Linked DNA regions of Homo sapiens: region 1 is linked to region 2. The links come from fine-mapping of genetic effects on gene expression. Tissue or cell type: blood mononuclear cells. Region 2 holds a variant in brackets; the other region holds the start of a gene. All regions are shown on one strand. Distances are from middle to middle.

What was found. PIP is the estimated chance that this variant, and not a neighbour inherited with it, causes the effect.
Region 1: it holds the start of NAV1, and the variant in region 2 is fine-mapped to the expression of NAV1 in blood mononuclear cells (TOPMed, PIP above 0.99). The same link has a PIP of 0.9 or more in monocytes.

Annotation. Positions count from the first base shown.
Region 1 is chr1:201,536,031-201,544,124 of GRCh38, forward strand. It overlaps NAV1 (neuron navigator 1), which reads left to right and starts at 3,097. Exons shown (of 34, transcript NM_001389617.1): 1 at 3,097-3,312. It overlaps LOC124904484 (a long non-coding RNA gene), which reads right to left and starts at 4,115. Exons shown (of 2, transcript XR_007066793.1): 1 at 3,989-4,115.
Region 2 is chr1:201,711,139-201,719,240 of GRCh38, forward strand. NAV1 (neuron navigator 1) reads left to right here. Exons shown (of 34, transcript NM_001389617.1): 6 at 1,679-1,781; 7 at 7,252-7,617. All of the region lies in intron 2 of IPO9-AS1 (IPO9 antisense RNA 1), which reads right to left. Among named protein-coding and RNA genes, the nearest start is that of MIR5191, 4.3 kb to the right of the region's middle. RefSeq lists enhancers at 1,791-2,479, 2,323-2,617. The variant A/C (reference allele first, on the strand shown) is at 4,916.

The DNA of each region.
Region 1 (8,094 bases), 180 kb before region 2:
CAAACAAGACAGTCCGAAGGATAAAGACAGTCTCCCTGTGGGCCACGTGGAACGCAGGAGCTGTGAGTGTGTTCAAATCCTCAAAGTCCCATGTCAGATAACCCAAGAAACAAATTAGCATTGGTCCACAGACCTCAAGGCGGCAGGAAAACAGGCAAAGCCCCCAAAGAAATCAGGCTGGGGCTGAAAATGTCACTTGCCATACTTCCTGGGGTTCCCAAAACTCTCATCTCGTCGGAGGCCGGATCTGATACTCTATGGGAGTGACAGCAAGCTTCTGGGCTGATTTTTTAAAACTTATTTGTCAGGTTGACATTAATCCTTTCGCTACCCATCTTGTCCCAAAGCAGGATTGGCTCTAAGCTGTGGAGGAGGGGAACAGAGGGGCTGTTGGGTTTTAAGGAGCCTCAGTGAGGCCAGCAGGTCCTGGAGGCCACCTTCTCGGTGGGGAGTGGGGGTACAGGTGACTATGCCAAGGGTCTCCTGCAGTGAACCTGAATCTCCCTCCTTCCATCACTCACAAATCATTTCACGCCCCAGCACCTCTCCCACTCTCTCCATCCTCCCCTCCCCACAGCGAGGTCCTTGCCTTTACCTCTTATTGATTTTCATATTTAAGGAAAATCCATTTGCTAGACTCAGAGCAACTGAGTCATCACTGTGTTCAGACAAAAACTACTCACAAAGTAGGCATTTGGCAGAGGCCACTTCTGGGATGGGCGGGACCCTGTTTCTTACCCAAACAGTGCTCTGTCCAGAGTCTCTTCTGGCTTCTCCTCCCTGCCGCTCTGTCCTATCCACTTTCTCTTTCAGTAGCTTTCATATCCTCTGCCTGTCACCCCAACCAGACTGGCCCCTTTACTCCTTCCTCCCTCAACCTGTCCATATGCTATTATGTTTGCCTACACATACAGGTTCACTGTTGGAAATCTGTGAGTGGGACATTTTTCTGAATTTTTATTTTAGATTCAGGGGGTACATATGCAGGCTTGTTACCTGGGTATATTGTGTGATGCTGAGGCTTGGGGTACAAATGATCCCGTCACCCATATTGATTGGGACATTAGGAGCAGGGTGAGGGAGAACTTGTATGAGCAGCCACTCATAAGTGGGAGAGAAATATTGATCCTGTGTACTGATAGAAGAGATCTAACCCTTACGAAATTATAGCTTTGGCTTTCTTTTCCATTCTGGGTAGCACCCAAGGAATGACATCATCCCAGCATTACCAATGTGGATGGGGGCTATGCATCCAGCCTCACAATGGGTCAAGGAGTCATTTCACCTTCTGATAGTCATTTGCATACCTACTGTGTGGTCCTTGGTCCCTGGGGTCCCACCTTTTGAGCTCTCAAGAAAGGACAGTGCTTCTTCTTAAAGGACTAGGCTCCCCTTTGCAGGACTGGGAAGAGCACAAAAGGATTCTAGCTAGCACATCATTGAATGCCAAACTGGGCGCAGAGTTACATCTCCAAGAGTTAGATCTCCAAGAGTTAGATCTCCAAGAGTTAGTTACTCCAAGATCAAAGTAACAGCTAATGTTCACTGAGCATTTACTATGTGCCAAGCACTATTCTAAGTGTGTCACCTATAGTATCGCATTTAATCCTCCCAACACTCTTAGGAGATAGGAACCATTATTATCCCATTTTACAGATAAAGAAACTGAGGTAGCTAGAGGTTAAAGAGTTCAGTAAGTTCCCATGGCTAAAAAATCATTGATCCAGGATTTGAACTCATGCAGTCTGCCTTAAGAGCCCACACTTCTAGTCTTTATACAGAGGGTAAGGGTGTCACTCTGCAGTCCACCCCCTTATCCCGCGCCAAAAGGCAGTTCACTCCCTTCATGGACAAAAATCATACAACAAATCTTTTTCCCTGATCAGTTGGGAACTTCTTGAATGTCACTGCTTGTCCATTGTCTGGTGTCTCATCTCTCCAAATTCAAAGCCACTGTGGCCTTACTGACTGTGTGGGGCGTTCAGGGAGGACTCAAGGGCTCTCATCCTGACTCTGCTCACACTGATTTTGCTGGCAAAGAGCTGTGAGACCTCCCAGGGAGTAGGCAGTTTTGCTTTCTATCCATCAGTCCTCCAACTTGCAACCCCATGGCCCTGGGAATAGATCAGTCCTCTTATTTGTTGGCAGGAGCAGGGGAATCTGCTGGGTCCTTGGCCACAGCTACTCCCTTTCCAAAGCCTGCTTCAAAGCTCAGGTCATCTGGCTTCCTTCTGCCTTCTTCCTGCAGACCCTGGAAGTCCCCAAGCCAGGAGGCAGGGGGCTTGCACTGCTTCTGCAGTAGGTTCTGGCTGAGGGCCTTCCTCCCATTCACTCTCCTCAGGTCCTGTCATTTCCTCTCTCCTCTTCTTCCCCCTCCTCCCACTCCCAAGTCCCTGGAAGAAGGAGGAGGGGCATCGGCTGTCTGGAAGGTGGGGAGAAGTCACTTATTTTACTGAGCACCTACTATTTGCGGGGCACTTGCGGGGCCTCCCCCTCCTCTAAGACAGCTCAGACAGCATGACAGTTCAGTGGGGTGGAGAAAGAAAGGAGGTGGGTGCCCGGGGTCAGAAGTCGGGTGGAGAGGCTGGCCCATCCATCTGTCCCCTTCTCCTAAAGAACTGCGGCTGAACCAGCGAGCGGTACCCGGACGACATGTGGGGGAGGGAGGAAACCCGGCCTGGAAGTGGCGGTGGCGGGTCCCCGGGCAAAGGAAAGGCTCAATTGTGCAAAGGCTTCCTGCCCTGCCAGCTCGCGGGTCCGCCACCGAGCAGCCGCCTTTCTGCGGCCAGCCTGGGAGGCGGGACGGGAAGGCGAAGGCAGCAAAGGGTTACGGGAATAGCTTTCCAATGACAAAGTCTGGAAGGGACCCATGCCTCCGCCCCTCTGCGGGTTAAACTGGCACAGTGCAGGGGGAGGAAAGCCAGGGCGATCGGACGGATTCTCTCCTCCTGCCCGCCCCCCGGCCGCCAGGCACTCCCCTCCTGGGCCCGCCGTGGAGGCAGCCGGCGTGTGCCTGGGGCAGCGGGTCACGAGGCTCCGCCCCGGCCGCCGTTCCCGAGGGGACGGCACTTTGTTCAGGATGCCGCCTCCCTCCTCATTGTGGGGCCGGGGCCGGCGGCTGCCCTAGTGCGGGGCCCGAGGCTGGAGTGCGCGGCGGACGCCAAGCCTGGTGCGAGGGGCCGAGGCGGCCTGGGGAGCCCCGGGAAACTTTGTGCTCGCGAGAAGCGGACCCCGCACCCGCGCTGCCCTTGGGGATGCGCGACTCTGCGCGGCTGCGGCGCGGACCCGGAGCCCGGGCGGGCAGGCGCTCCGGTGAGTGGCCGGCGCGGGGCGGTCGCGCGGTCGCGGCGCTGAGGGTCTGGCGCTTCCCGTTTTGCGAGGCTTGGCTGGCAGGTCCTGCGAGGCCGAGACCAAGTCTCGGGGTAGGGGAGGTTGGTGCCCGAGGGAGGCTGTGGGCTGGGCTCGGGAGAGGCGCTGGAATAAATAACAACCAAGATGCTCGCGGCTTCCCGGGAAGGTGTGTGCCCTTTCGACCCCTATGGGACTGACTGCGCGTTTGATTCTAGAGTTGACTCTCCGGGGGGGCTGCCTAACTTCAGTCCCTCTGAGCCTCAGTTTCCTTGTTGTGAAATACCCACAATTTAAAGTGCGTTGAGATCTTATCATGAGACACCAGGTGCTGCGTTCTTATACTCGCACCCACACGGCAAGCACACACCCTACCCGCACCTCTGCCTTTCGTTGAAGCAAGAGTTAACTCCTCCCATCCCAGCAGGAGCCAGAGGAACAGCTGGGGCAGGTGACCTCGCGGGCCGTTCCAGAAAACGTTCCCCGCACCCCCGGGATGCGCCGGGAAGCGCCCTCCCGCCAATCTCCCGGAGGCCGTCCTCTCTGGCGCCCGCCCAGTGCGTCTGGGAGCGGAGAAAGTGGTCCCGGAGGAGAGGGGAGAGAGGAGAACGCAGAAATTGGGTGATCACGGGGAGCTCACCTGAGCGCTCCCGAGGCTTGGGCTCTGGTCCCTGCTAATCCCCAGAGCCGATAAAAACTGGTCATAGGATAAAGAAGCAGCTAAGTTTGCAGCGGGCAGAGGGGAGGCAGGAACTGGAGAGGACGCGAGTGGCGGGTGGCGGGGGCGGTGTGTAGGGGTGACGTCCACCCGGCAGAGAGGGTTCCTTGTCCCCTGGAGCCGAACACAGGAAAATCAGCTGGTGAGTCAATGGGACTTTGTTAGGATAGTCACAGGGCGCAGCTGGCGCCGGCTTAAGGGAAGAGCTGGATCCCCCCTTGATAACATGCTGTTTATCTGGCTTCCTGTTTCAATGATTGGGATACCATTGGCTCGTTCAAATTCAATGCTGAGAAGCCTGTGGGCACGTTCGTTCACTGTGCAAAAGCAGAGGGCTTGCCTGGGTTTTCATCTGTGGGCTAGCTCTTGTTCCCCCTACATGAAGTCCCCGGCAACTCACTTGTAATGGGACTGGAGACTTCGCAAAAAGAATGGCCTCCCCAGGAGGAGGATCTGACGATCTGACACTGCAGAGACCTTGGCTTCCTTTAGGCCAGAGATATATATGATTCCAGCTTGCTTATGACATTTTTTTAAATCCTGCTTTGACTTTTTGTTGGTGTGTCTTTGGGATTGACCTAAGAAGGGAGACAGAGGGAACAGCTCTATGGATTTTGTCTTCTAAGATGAGCTTCCTAGTAGTATGTGCTTTCACCATCAGTTTTTAGGGGAAGTTTTCAATCATCAGTTTGTAGTTCTCTATCTGGCTGTGTTGCTAACCACCTGGATGATCAGAGAGCAAATAATTCCTCATGTCTCTGTCCTGGTTTTCACTTCTGTAAAGTGGAGCCAGGAAAAAATCGCTACGGTTGGAAGAATAAAGAAGGTTTTTCAGATTTGGGCTCCAGCCCCTAGGGTCTATTTCCTGAACTTTCCAGGTGAAAGAGAACACCAGGTGAAAGAGAACACCATTTCCGGGTGAAAGAGAACAGCCCCTGATCTGAACTTCTTCAGCAGTTTATCTGATTTCCCTTGGGGCAGGTCTCACATTCTGCTTTGCATTTTTTGTTTTTGTTGATTGTCAGTGTGCCATGCTTTGTATTTTAGATATTTGGGTGTTTGTGCACATGCCTATCTTCCTGTGAGTACCTTCCAGCCAAACACCCTATCTGACCACCCACAACACTCAGCACACAGTAGGCACTTTATAGATGCTTGCCAAACTAATAGAATTGGGGAGAAAAACTAAGTAGCATTCAAAGGCCTCCTATCTCATTTAAGTGCCATTTATTCATTCTTTGGGAGTTAATTTGCTCCCCCAGACCCCCTCTACTTCTTTTTCCCTCAAAAGCAGTTCATAAAAATGTTGATTTGCCCATGGGTAAGTAGGCAAGCTTTGAATATTTGGGCTTTTTCTGGGATCTGGCTTCTTTGATAAACCTTGGCCTGGGGAAACTGAAAACAAGAATGCTGTTTTGGCCAGGTGCGGTGGCTCATGCCCGTAAGAGGGGCGGATCACCTGAGGTCAGGAGTTCGAGACCAGCCTGGACAACGTGGTGAAACCCTGTCTCAACTAGAAATATGAAAATTAGCCGGGTGTGGTGGCAGGTGCCTGTAATCCCAGCTACTCGTGAGGCTGAGACAGGAGAATTGCTTGAACCCGGGAGGCAGAGGTTGCAGTAAGCCGAGATCATGCCATTGCACTCCAGCCTGGGGGCCAAGAGTGAAACTCCATCTTTTTTTTAAAGGAGTGCTGTTTTTCCTTTCTTGCCTAATCTAGCCCCCTCCTGAGTCCCTGTGAACCTCTGGTATCAACTCAGTTTGGGCCCAGTAGAAAGGAGTGGCCTAGAATAGAAAAATCTCCTATCCATCTTTTACAATTTGTCTCTATTTTTGCCTTCCTATTTCCAATCAGTGTCACTTCCCTCTTCTTTTAAAGTTCTTTTGACTTCTTGAAGGGTTTGGCCTTTAAGAAAAACCAGAATGTCAAAGTTAAAAGGATCTCCACTCCTCCCAACCCCTGCTCTTCTCCCCTTTACAGGCAAGAATCAAGGCCCACTGAAGGGAAGGGATGGGCTCAGAGCTACACAACTGGGGTACTGCAGAAGCCCGCCTAGAATGCAGGGCTCCTGGCTTTCAGTTTAGGGCTCATTCCCTTTCAGCAAATCACTGGGAATTTTTATCTTCCTAGCGTTTCCATCTCAGCAGATGTTACTTACCTCTTAGCTAGAGAGAGGAACAGAAACATATTAGGGTCAAGACAGCTATCTCTGTGATGGAAGCATCTATCAACTTTTCGAGTCTCTGGAACATGGAGAGCTAAGAAATGTGGCAATACTTGGCAAACACTTCGTCTTTCTGGCCCCTAGTCACACACAAAAAATAATAATTAAAAACACTTTTAGTTCCTTCTTCAACTTAAAAATACCCCTCCAACTAGTCTAGCGAAAAACACCCTCCACAGTAAACCGTTTCCTGGGCCTCATCTGTTCCCTTAACCTCCTGGGAAGGCTGACTCAGGCCTGATTTCCTCCGAGAGGCCTGCGATTTTGCTTCCCAGCATCCTGTGACTCTTGAGACGTGAAGCGAGGCAGGATGGCTGAGACCCAGGCCACTCTGACCTGCCTGTGGATGTGGTTCAGGTTCTTACACATGTCCTGTGCAGTTCACACTACCACCCCATCAAATCTATTTGCTCTACTTAATTTTAATATGAGATGCACTAATATGCATATAAAATTAAAGGCTCTGATGCATGTGCCTCTGCCAAGGACCGTTACTAACAAGATGATTCCACTTCAAAAGACTGCAAGACTGTTCTGATATCCAATCCTCAGATGCTCTGAAAGCTTTCATAAATGGAATTGTTTCTTAATTTCCTTTTTGGCTTGTGTATTACTGGTGTGTAGAAACACAGCTGATTTTTGTGTGTTGATCTTGTCCCTTGCAATTTTGCTGAATTTATTAGCTCTAGTAGCTTTTTTGTTTCTGGATTCTTTGGGATTTTCTATACATAGGATCATGTCAACTGTGAATAGAAATAGTTTTACGTCTTTCTTTCCAATTTGAATGATTTTTATTTATTTTTCTTGCCTAATTGCTCTGGCTAGAACTTTCAGTATAATGTTGAGTGGCAGTGGTGAAAGCAGACATCCTTCTCTTGTTCTTGATCTTAGGGGGATTTCTTGATTTTAGCCTTTCACCAGTGAGCGTGATGTTAGCTGTGGGCTTTTCATAAATGTCCTTTGTGTTGAGGAAATCATCTTCTATTTCTAGTTTTCTAATCATTTTTTTTTAATCACAAAGGGGTGTTGAATTTTATGTCAAATGCTTGTTTTCTGTATCACTCGAGATAATCCTGTGGCTTGTTTTTTGTTTCCTTCATTGTGTTAGTGTGGTGCCTTACACTGATTGTTTTTCTTAAGTTGAATCACTCTTTTAGTCCTGGGATAAATCCCTCTGAATTTTTTTTTTTTTATCTGCAAAGTTTCATTTTTTTTTCCCCTGTAAAAAGACAACAAAATTTGACTAAGTGCTAACATTTTACATTAGGATGGGTTGATGTATTTAATTATACTTTTCATTATAATTAGTGTACTTTAAACATCTAACAATTATATTGTGGTAAATATGTATAACCTACAATTTACCATTTTAGCCACTTCTAAATGTACAGTTCAGTGGCATTAAATGCATTTGCATTGTTGTATAACCATCACCTGTAGCCATCTCTGGAACTTTTTTACCTTCCCAAACTTAAACTCTGTACTCATTAAAGAGTAACTCTCCATTCCCCTTCCCTCCTCCCCAAGGCCCCGGCAACCGCCATTTTACTTCCCATCTCTATGAATTTGTGAACATTTTTTAATAACTAGAAGTTAGGCATTAAAGGGTTAAAGGGCTGTATCTTCCTGTCTTCCAGTTTCCCACCAACTCCCTCCAGCCGGAGGGGCCACCACTGGCCCTGATGCAGAGATGAACTGATTGCTGGTCATCCTGAGACTCAGAGGGCACCACGCCCAGCCTCAGCGCGGGCTTCATTTCCTCTAGCTCAGGGATTCTCCATCTTGGTTGCACATTAGCACCAC
Region 2 (8,102 bases):
CGGAAGTGATGCCAGGACTGGGGATAGAGCTTAGGCCACTGGCATGGTGGCCTGCCATTTGTCCCTGATCCTTGCCACCAGCATGGAGGCCTGGATTCATGGTGCTGACCATGAGAGGATGTGGGGGTGGAGAAGCTCCCCCTGGGAGGGGAAAGGAGGGATGGCTGGGCTTGGGTGTGGAGCTGGTTCTCAGAAAAGGTGCCCAAAAGGCTCTGGAGAGGGCATTGCAGGCTCCCTGCCCGCCCCACCCAGCCTCCCCTCCCTGACAAGACAGTCAAGCAGCTGCCTGCCAGCCGGCCTGAGCTTAGTCTTGGGGGAATAAAAACCTCTTGAAGAGATTCAGAAATGTTCCCTTTGGCAGCTAAAAAAAACCTTACACTCCTGCTGAGTCTGTGGGCTGAGGAGGGACTGAGGGGGCGTTTGGCCTCTGCAGCAGCGGCAGAAGGCTTGCGGATGGAGGGGAAAAGGGAGCAGCCTGGAGAGCCAGAGTTCTTGGGTTTTCTCTGTTGTTTTGCCATCATCTTTCTGTCACTCCCTGACTCTCTCCTGCAGATTGTCTTTTAGGGAGGTACTGGGGGACTTGGTTCCATTCATGACTTTAGGTTCCAAAATGAAAGATAAGCCATGGGGCAGGGCCAGCTTCTCTTCATTATACTGTCCTTAGGGCCCAGGGTGGTGCCTGATGTGAAGTAAGTGCTTGATAAAGATTCATTGGATGAACTGAAGGAAGGAAGAACATTCTTTGAGTTCCTTCATGCTCAAGCACCTCTCAGTCATTTGGACGTTATTTTCACCCTGTTTGCTGTTGTAGATTCTCATCCGTCCAGGCTAATATCTGGACACCAGGGTTGAATACAATGGCTCTTGGTGATTTGGGATTCTGAGGATTGGGCCACACCCATGCATCCTTCTCACTCAGGATTGCACCACTTGTGTGGGGACTGCCCAGAGCTCACTTCAAGCTCCAGAAAATGACTGCTCATCCCTTCCACCTCCCACCAGCCACCTCACCTTTAGGAGACTATATCTGAACTAACTTCCTGGGACCCCATAGAGCAACCCCAGATATTACCAGTCAGTGCCTGGGTTTAGGTGTACTGAAGCCAGCTTGTACCAGTTCCCCAGAGCCAATTGTTAGCCCCTCTTCCTAACTCTGTGGTCAGTGACATCAGATTGGTAGATTGAAAGTGGCCATGATAGGAGGCTTTATACCAGGGAAATTGGCAAACACCACACATCGGTGTCCCCTTCCTCCGAAAGCCAGTTGTTAAACATTTACCAGCACAACCCTGGATAGGGGGTTTCAGGCAGATGTTCCAGCTCATCTCAACCACGAGAAATCTTGCCCAGGACCTCTGCTATGAGAAGCAGGGCCTCCCCAAAACAAAGCCAGAGGTAGAGGCAGTTCCTTGGGGGCTCTGAAAGGAGTGCACAGACACAGAAAGCCATGCCTGTACCCCCTGCCAGGATCTGGGGTTCAGAGGGCTCAATGGCACATGTCCAGGGCCTTTGAGAGGGCCCATTCTGTTGGTTGTCTTTGGGAAAGGGAGGAGGAAGGTGACTATCATGGCCCAGGGACTAGCCTCCTGGGGACACTGTCAATCTCCACTTCCTGACCCCCAGGATCCCAGCATTAAGTTCTCTTCACTCACCCAGCTCTTCCTTCTCTCCCTACCAGACCCAGAGTCCCAGAGAAAGAGGACAGTGCAGAATGTCCTGGATCTCCGGCAGAACCTGGAAGAGACCATGTCCAGCCTGCGAGGGTCCCAGGTGACTCACAGGTAAGCTCGAGCTGCAGAGAGGGTCATGCCCTCTGCCTTCCTGGCTCTCCACCCCATTCTGGAGGGCAGGGCCCCCGGGTCCCTCCACACCTCTGCCAGGTCAGCCAGGTGGCCTGATGCGTGGAGCCACTGCAGAAGGAGGAGGAAATCCATTTATCTCAACAAGAGAAGCTTGGCTTTGTCTTCTGTCTGCTTGTGCCTGAACATTTCATTTCATTTCAGCAAATCAGCTTGAAAATCACTAGCTTAGGAGCCAGGAAGTGGAAGCCATTACACAGCTCAATGTGTGATCTTTGATAGTCAGTCTCCTTCATTAGACCTCTGTCTCCTCAATCTGTCAAGAGAAGGTTTACTAAATGCTCTCTTCCTGTTCCTAAGTCTCCATTAAACTAGGGGTCTAGAATCAATTCCCTTCTCAACACCTGGGTCTTTTCACTCTTGTGTCAGTTAGGTGCCCCCTGGCCTCTTCTACGAGCCACTGAGGGAGGCTTGAGTGCTCAACAGGGCCCACACAGTGTCACCCAGCTCCATGCCCTGTTAGGTGTGTCCCCCTAGCCCACTCCCTGCAGAGACCTCATAGCCTCCAGCTGCATGGGGCACTCAGCCTTCCCACGGCACCTCTCTCTGGAGCAAAGTCCTGGCCACAGGCTCTGCTGTGACTCAGAATTTCCCTTGCTGGCTCCTTGGACTGCCCAGATGAGCTCATGCTGTCAGCTCCAAGTGGGGCAGAGGGCTGGGCTAAGCTCTGGGGACAGCGGGAGGCAGAACAGACAGCCAGATTGGGAAATCATGGGGGGTGTGGGGCAGGAAGGCTGTGTGAGGGCTAGGAAGCCTCCCCAGTTAGACTGGAAGTAGATTCCTCTCCAACTCCTGGGGCTGGAAAATTAAGAGCAAAGTTGGGACACAGGGGCAGTGGAAAAGGACTTTCTTTAGCCCAGGGTGTGGCCATTTGGGATTCTGAGGATGGGACCACACCCATGGACATATTTACATACCACCAATGACAAAGAACTCATTACCTTTCTTTTTTTATTTTTAACATAGGCTTTTTAAAAATATTTTGTTATTATTTTTAAAGACCGAGTCTCATTCTGTCGCCCACTGCCTCAGCCTCCCGAGTAGCTGGGATTACAGCTGTGTGCCATCACGCCCAGCTAATTTTTGTATTTTTAGTAGAGATGGGGTTTCACCATGTTGGCCAGGCCAGTCTCAAACTCCTGGCCTCAAGTGATCCACACGCCTTGGCCTCCCAAAGTGCTGGGATTACAGGCGTGAGCCACCGCGCCCGGCCAACTCACTACCTTTCAGTCACCCCGGTGCATTGTGGGATTGCAGCAACTCTGATGTGGAACTGCACTTAGTCTTAAGTAGCTTTCAGCCGTTGGCTGTAGTTCTTCCTGCTTAGATGACCCTTCTCCTTCTCCTTCCTTGTACTACTCCTCCCCCTATCCCCAGCCCATGCCCGCATCTTGGACACTCAGCCCTTTACTCCCAGACATCTCGAGTATTTTAAATGGTAAGATAAATCAAAACTCTCTGGGGATTACCTCTGCTCAGGCCAGCAGAACCCTGACTACTGAAAGGGAGGTGACCAAGGAAGTCCTGGAAAAAGGTGGATGGTGGGGGCTCCAGGACCCCCTTACATCTGTCCCTTACTGCCATCCCTCATAGCCCCAAGCCCCCAGCAGGAGCCCAAGTGAAGCAGGGATCTGGCAGAGCTTGGCTTATCAGTTTAGGACCCAGCGGATGAAATCTTGGACATCTGCCTTCCCCCATCCAAGGAAATTGTTGGAACATCTCTCAGCACCAAGTCACCCACCAGCCTCATGCCAAAGACACCAGAAAGTGCTTAGTTGCTGAGAGGGCCACACCCCAAATGACTCACTCACAGGAGTAGGAGAGAAGTAGCAGCTCCAGCCTCCTGGTGCCACTGACTCAGAGCAGCCAGCCCCCAGTCCCTCCGTTAAGCCGGACAGCTTGACCCTAGGCAGGCGCTATTGGTTTTCTGCTTCTAGTGGGAAAGGGGAGGCTTCAATCAAGCCTTTTGCATAATGCTGACTGGTTTAGGGGGAGCGTCTAGGGCCTCTGGCTTCTGCCTCCCTTTATAGGAAAGGAACCAAGAGCCCCGGAGCTGGTTTTTCTGTTTACTGTGGACCTAGAGCCACTTCCTCTCATAGGCTTTGGTTTATATTATTCCTGTTCCACACTGGTAGCCAAAACAATGATTCCCTGACTTTTTATGGCTCTTTTTTTTTTTTTTTTGAGACAGAGTCTCACTGTCTCCCAGGCTGGAGTGCCTTGGCATGATCTCAGCTCACTGCAACCTCTGTCTCCCAGGTCAAGCGATTCTTCTGCCTCAGCCTCTGAAGTAGCTGGGACTACAGGTGCGTGCCACCACACCGGCTAATTTTTGTATTTTTAGTAGAGATGGGGTTTCACCATGTTGGCCAGGCTGGTCTAGAACTCCTGACCTCAGGTAATCCACCCACTTCGGCCACCCAAAGTGCTGGGATTACAGGTGTGAGCCACCACGCCCTGCCGGCTCTTTTACTTTTTAAAGGGCTTTCTATCAATGAGCCCTTCCCTTAGCCCTGGAAGTAGACAGGATATATACATACTCCCTGGGTTAGAGAATGAGGCTGGGGGCAGGGAGGCACCTGCCAGAGTCACGCTGGCTGATGAGGGTAGGTTCTGTACTCTGCATGCTCAGAACCCATGCCAGCTGTGTGCCAGGCACAGCGCTGGGCACTGGCTCCCCAGAACACACACAAGCTTCATCCTCGGAGCTTATGGTCCAGTGTGTGCTTCCTGCAAGGCTGTTTTCACCCAGGAACTCCCAGGATAACTGGATTCCATTCCTTTTCAGAAGCCTTTACTCCTGTGCTGCTTCCTCAATTTCTACTGGTTCATTTCCCCCAGCGAGGAGAGTCTGGGTCAGACTGTGGCTGGAGAGGAAATGAAACTGTGTCCTCCCCAGAGAAAGGCAAGCCTGAAGGGTGGGTGCAGGGCTGGAATTCAAGAACTGAGGATCTGAGCTAGAATCCCCCTCACCAAGCTTAAGTCTAGAGATGTCTAGAGATGTGTTTGGGGGAACTGAAAAAAAAAGAGAGAGCTGTGGAATAGGGGAAGAGGCA[A/C]TTTTAGTACAAATAACTAAACAGGGGCAGGCCAGGAATAGAATTGAGGAACCCAGATGCTGAGTGCAGCCCTCACTCCCACACTAGTATATAACCATGGTGTAGGCTAACTACCCAAACCAGCTTCCCTGGAGATCCCCGCCACCCTCTTAGTATGGTTAGCATCATCCTCTTCCTCCCCTGTCTCATCCCATGGTCAAGGTCAGCTTGCTTTTATCAAGCACTTACTGCACAGGGCGCTGGACTGAGTTTTCTGATGAGAACTTCCTTGCTTTTTACTCACACATCCATCGTGGGTTTGCTCCTCTTTGATTCATTCTAGAGCACCAGCTCTAGGCCAGGTGCCATGCAAAGTGCTGAAATACCGTGGTGAGTGAGCAAGGCAGACAAAGTCGCACCATCACTACAGTCTCTGGCTTCGGGGCACATCGGTTTCTGTCCAAGGAGATGTGATGTCTAGGTCCACAGTAATTAGAAGCCGAAACAAGACACTGTATGAGGCAGAGCTGCAGAACACAAAGGGGTTCCTAAAGGGCTGCCAGAAGCAGGGTGCAGTGGCTCACGCCAGTAACCCCAGCACTGTGGGAGGCCGAGGTGGGAGGATTGCTTGAGTTCAGGAGTTCAAGACCAGCCTGGACAACATGGCAAAACCCCATCTCTATAAAAAATACAAAAATTAGCCAGATGTGCTCATGTGTGCCTGTCGTCCCTGCTACTTTGGGGCTGAGGCAGGAGGGTCACTTGAGCTCGGGAGGTCAAGGCTGCAGTGAGCCGTGTTTGCACCACTACACTCCAGCCTAGGCAACAGAGTGAGACCCTGTCTCAAAAATAAGTAAATAAGTAAAAAGAGTTGGCAGGGCCAGGAGGGGAGCCGCTGGGCATGGACACGGTCAGGAAGCCCTCCAGAGGGCCAGAAGCAGCTGCCACTGATTGCCCTGACTGGCCAGGGCCTCCCCCATCTTGCCCACAGGACTACTGCCAGGACCCCAGCACACTCAGTTTCAAGAGCGTTTGGATCCCTCAAGTTCTGCTGGTTAGAAAATAAGACCGTATTTTCTCAGGTCCAATAGAGACAACTTTGGAAATTTTTCTTCTTTTCAAGGAACTTGATAGAAACCAGAATGGAAAAATCAATGTCCCACTCCCATTCCAGCCCCCAAAGTGGCTAAGCAATGGATGTGTTCACAGAGCAGTGATTGCTTGGGCTCATGTAACTCATGTCCAGCCACAGATTGCCTCAGTTGCCCCAGCTTTCTTGGCCACCAAACCCCGTTTCGCTTACTTAGTCCTGTCTGGCTTAATTAGGATAAGTTATGGAGACCCTGCCTGAGGCTGATTTGGGCTGGCCCCACTGCTAGGCTAGATGGAATTATGGGTCTCAGCCTGAACCCAAGTCCAAGCCACCCCTTCAACCAGATTCCAGTTGTATTTCCTCTCTGCAGCCCGCCTGGCCCTATCTCCTTCCCTAGTCCCCCAGGTTCCCCTAGTCTCAGGCCATCCAGCACTCACCTGGGCATTGCTCCCTTGGCCTGGTCTAGCAGGGCCTGAGGCTTGAGACTCTGGACATTTGGCTTCACCCCCATGTCTGGTTCCCTGTGTCCTCTCCTTTGTCCAGTTAAGGCTGCTTCTATTCTCTGGGGAGGCTTATTTCCCCTGCTGCCCTAGGCCTGTGGCTTGGACCAGTCTTACTGGGGACCTGCCATACATCCCAGATTCCCAAAGCTTTTCCTATACTCTCTGCACTCTACTTCAGCTTTCCTATATATGATGTTTGGGAATCAGCTAGCCCTCAGCTAATTACTAGAAGAGAGGTGATGGACACACCATTAACAAAATGACCAAGGCCTTCTAAGCTCAAGTGACCAGTCTCTCCCACTTGCCTCCAGGTCTGTTGACCCCTTCCATATACCAGGCACTGTGTTCTGTCTGTACATATGTGATCCTTACAACTCTATAAGGTAGATGTTATGCCATTATCCCCATTGTACAGATGGGGAAACTGAAGCTTTAGTTATTTACTTTCCTTGGGCTCCTTTACTAACCAATACCAAAAAAGAATTCAAACCTAGGTCATATTACACAATCTAGGGTCTTAACAGTATACAGGATTTCTTCCCTAGCCACTTAATTAAGATCATTTCCTTTGTCAAACAGATAACGTATCACAAAGGTAACACACAACCAGAGGCCTCATGGAGGAGGTGGAGCTTGGGCAGGTGGGGAGGAGGTGACAGGGCCTGTGGGTGGAGGGGAGGCATTGCTGGGGTGCATGTGAGGGGACAGGGCACACGGCGGCTGTGCCAAGGACTAAGTAGTGCCTTCTGCTCTCCACCCAGCTCCCTGGAGATGACCTGCTACGACAGCGATGATGCCAACCCACGCAGCGTGTCCAGCCTCTCCAACCGCTCGTCCCCTCTGTCATGGCGCTATGGCCAGTCCAGTCCGCGGCTGCAGGCTGGTGACGCGCCCTCTGTGGGTGGGAGCTGCCGCTCGGAGGGGACGCCCGCCTGGTACATGCACGGCGAACGGGCCCACTACTCCCACACCATGCCCATGCGCAGCCCCAGCAAGCTCAGCCATATCTCCCGCCTGGAGCTGGTCGAATCCCTGGACTCGGATGAGGTGGACCTCAAGTCCGGCTACATGAGCGACAGTGACCTCATGGGCAAGACCATGACGGAGGATGATGACATCACTACCGGGTAAGCGCAGGGGCTTCTTGGATGGCGGGGGAGGATGGTGGAAAGACCACTGGGATGCGACGCCTTAAAAGTGGAGTGGAACCCAAAACGGGTTTTGGTTTGCTGTGCTGCTATGAAAGTACACAAAAGTGTGCTGTGTACACTTTGTGATTGCCTCTGAAATTCGATGTGGTTTATTCTAGACTTGGGTGTGGTGTAGGCAGGGCCTACATCCAAGGAGCTGATTGGTCAATGAAGGCGCCTCCCTCTCATTGGTCTCTGTGGCTGTCATTCTGTCACCCTCCTCCCTGGCTCTTTGCCCTCAATAAACTGGCTCAAAGAGCCTTGGAAAAGCATTTTATTCCCAGCTCTTATGCGAACTCTGTGTAGACCCTGGACAACTAAATCTGCTTTCCCATTTGCAAAAAAAAAAAAAACCAAAAAGGTTATTAACATCGTATCTGTCTACCTAAGAAGAGAAAATGAGAGCTTGTGGGTGAAATCGC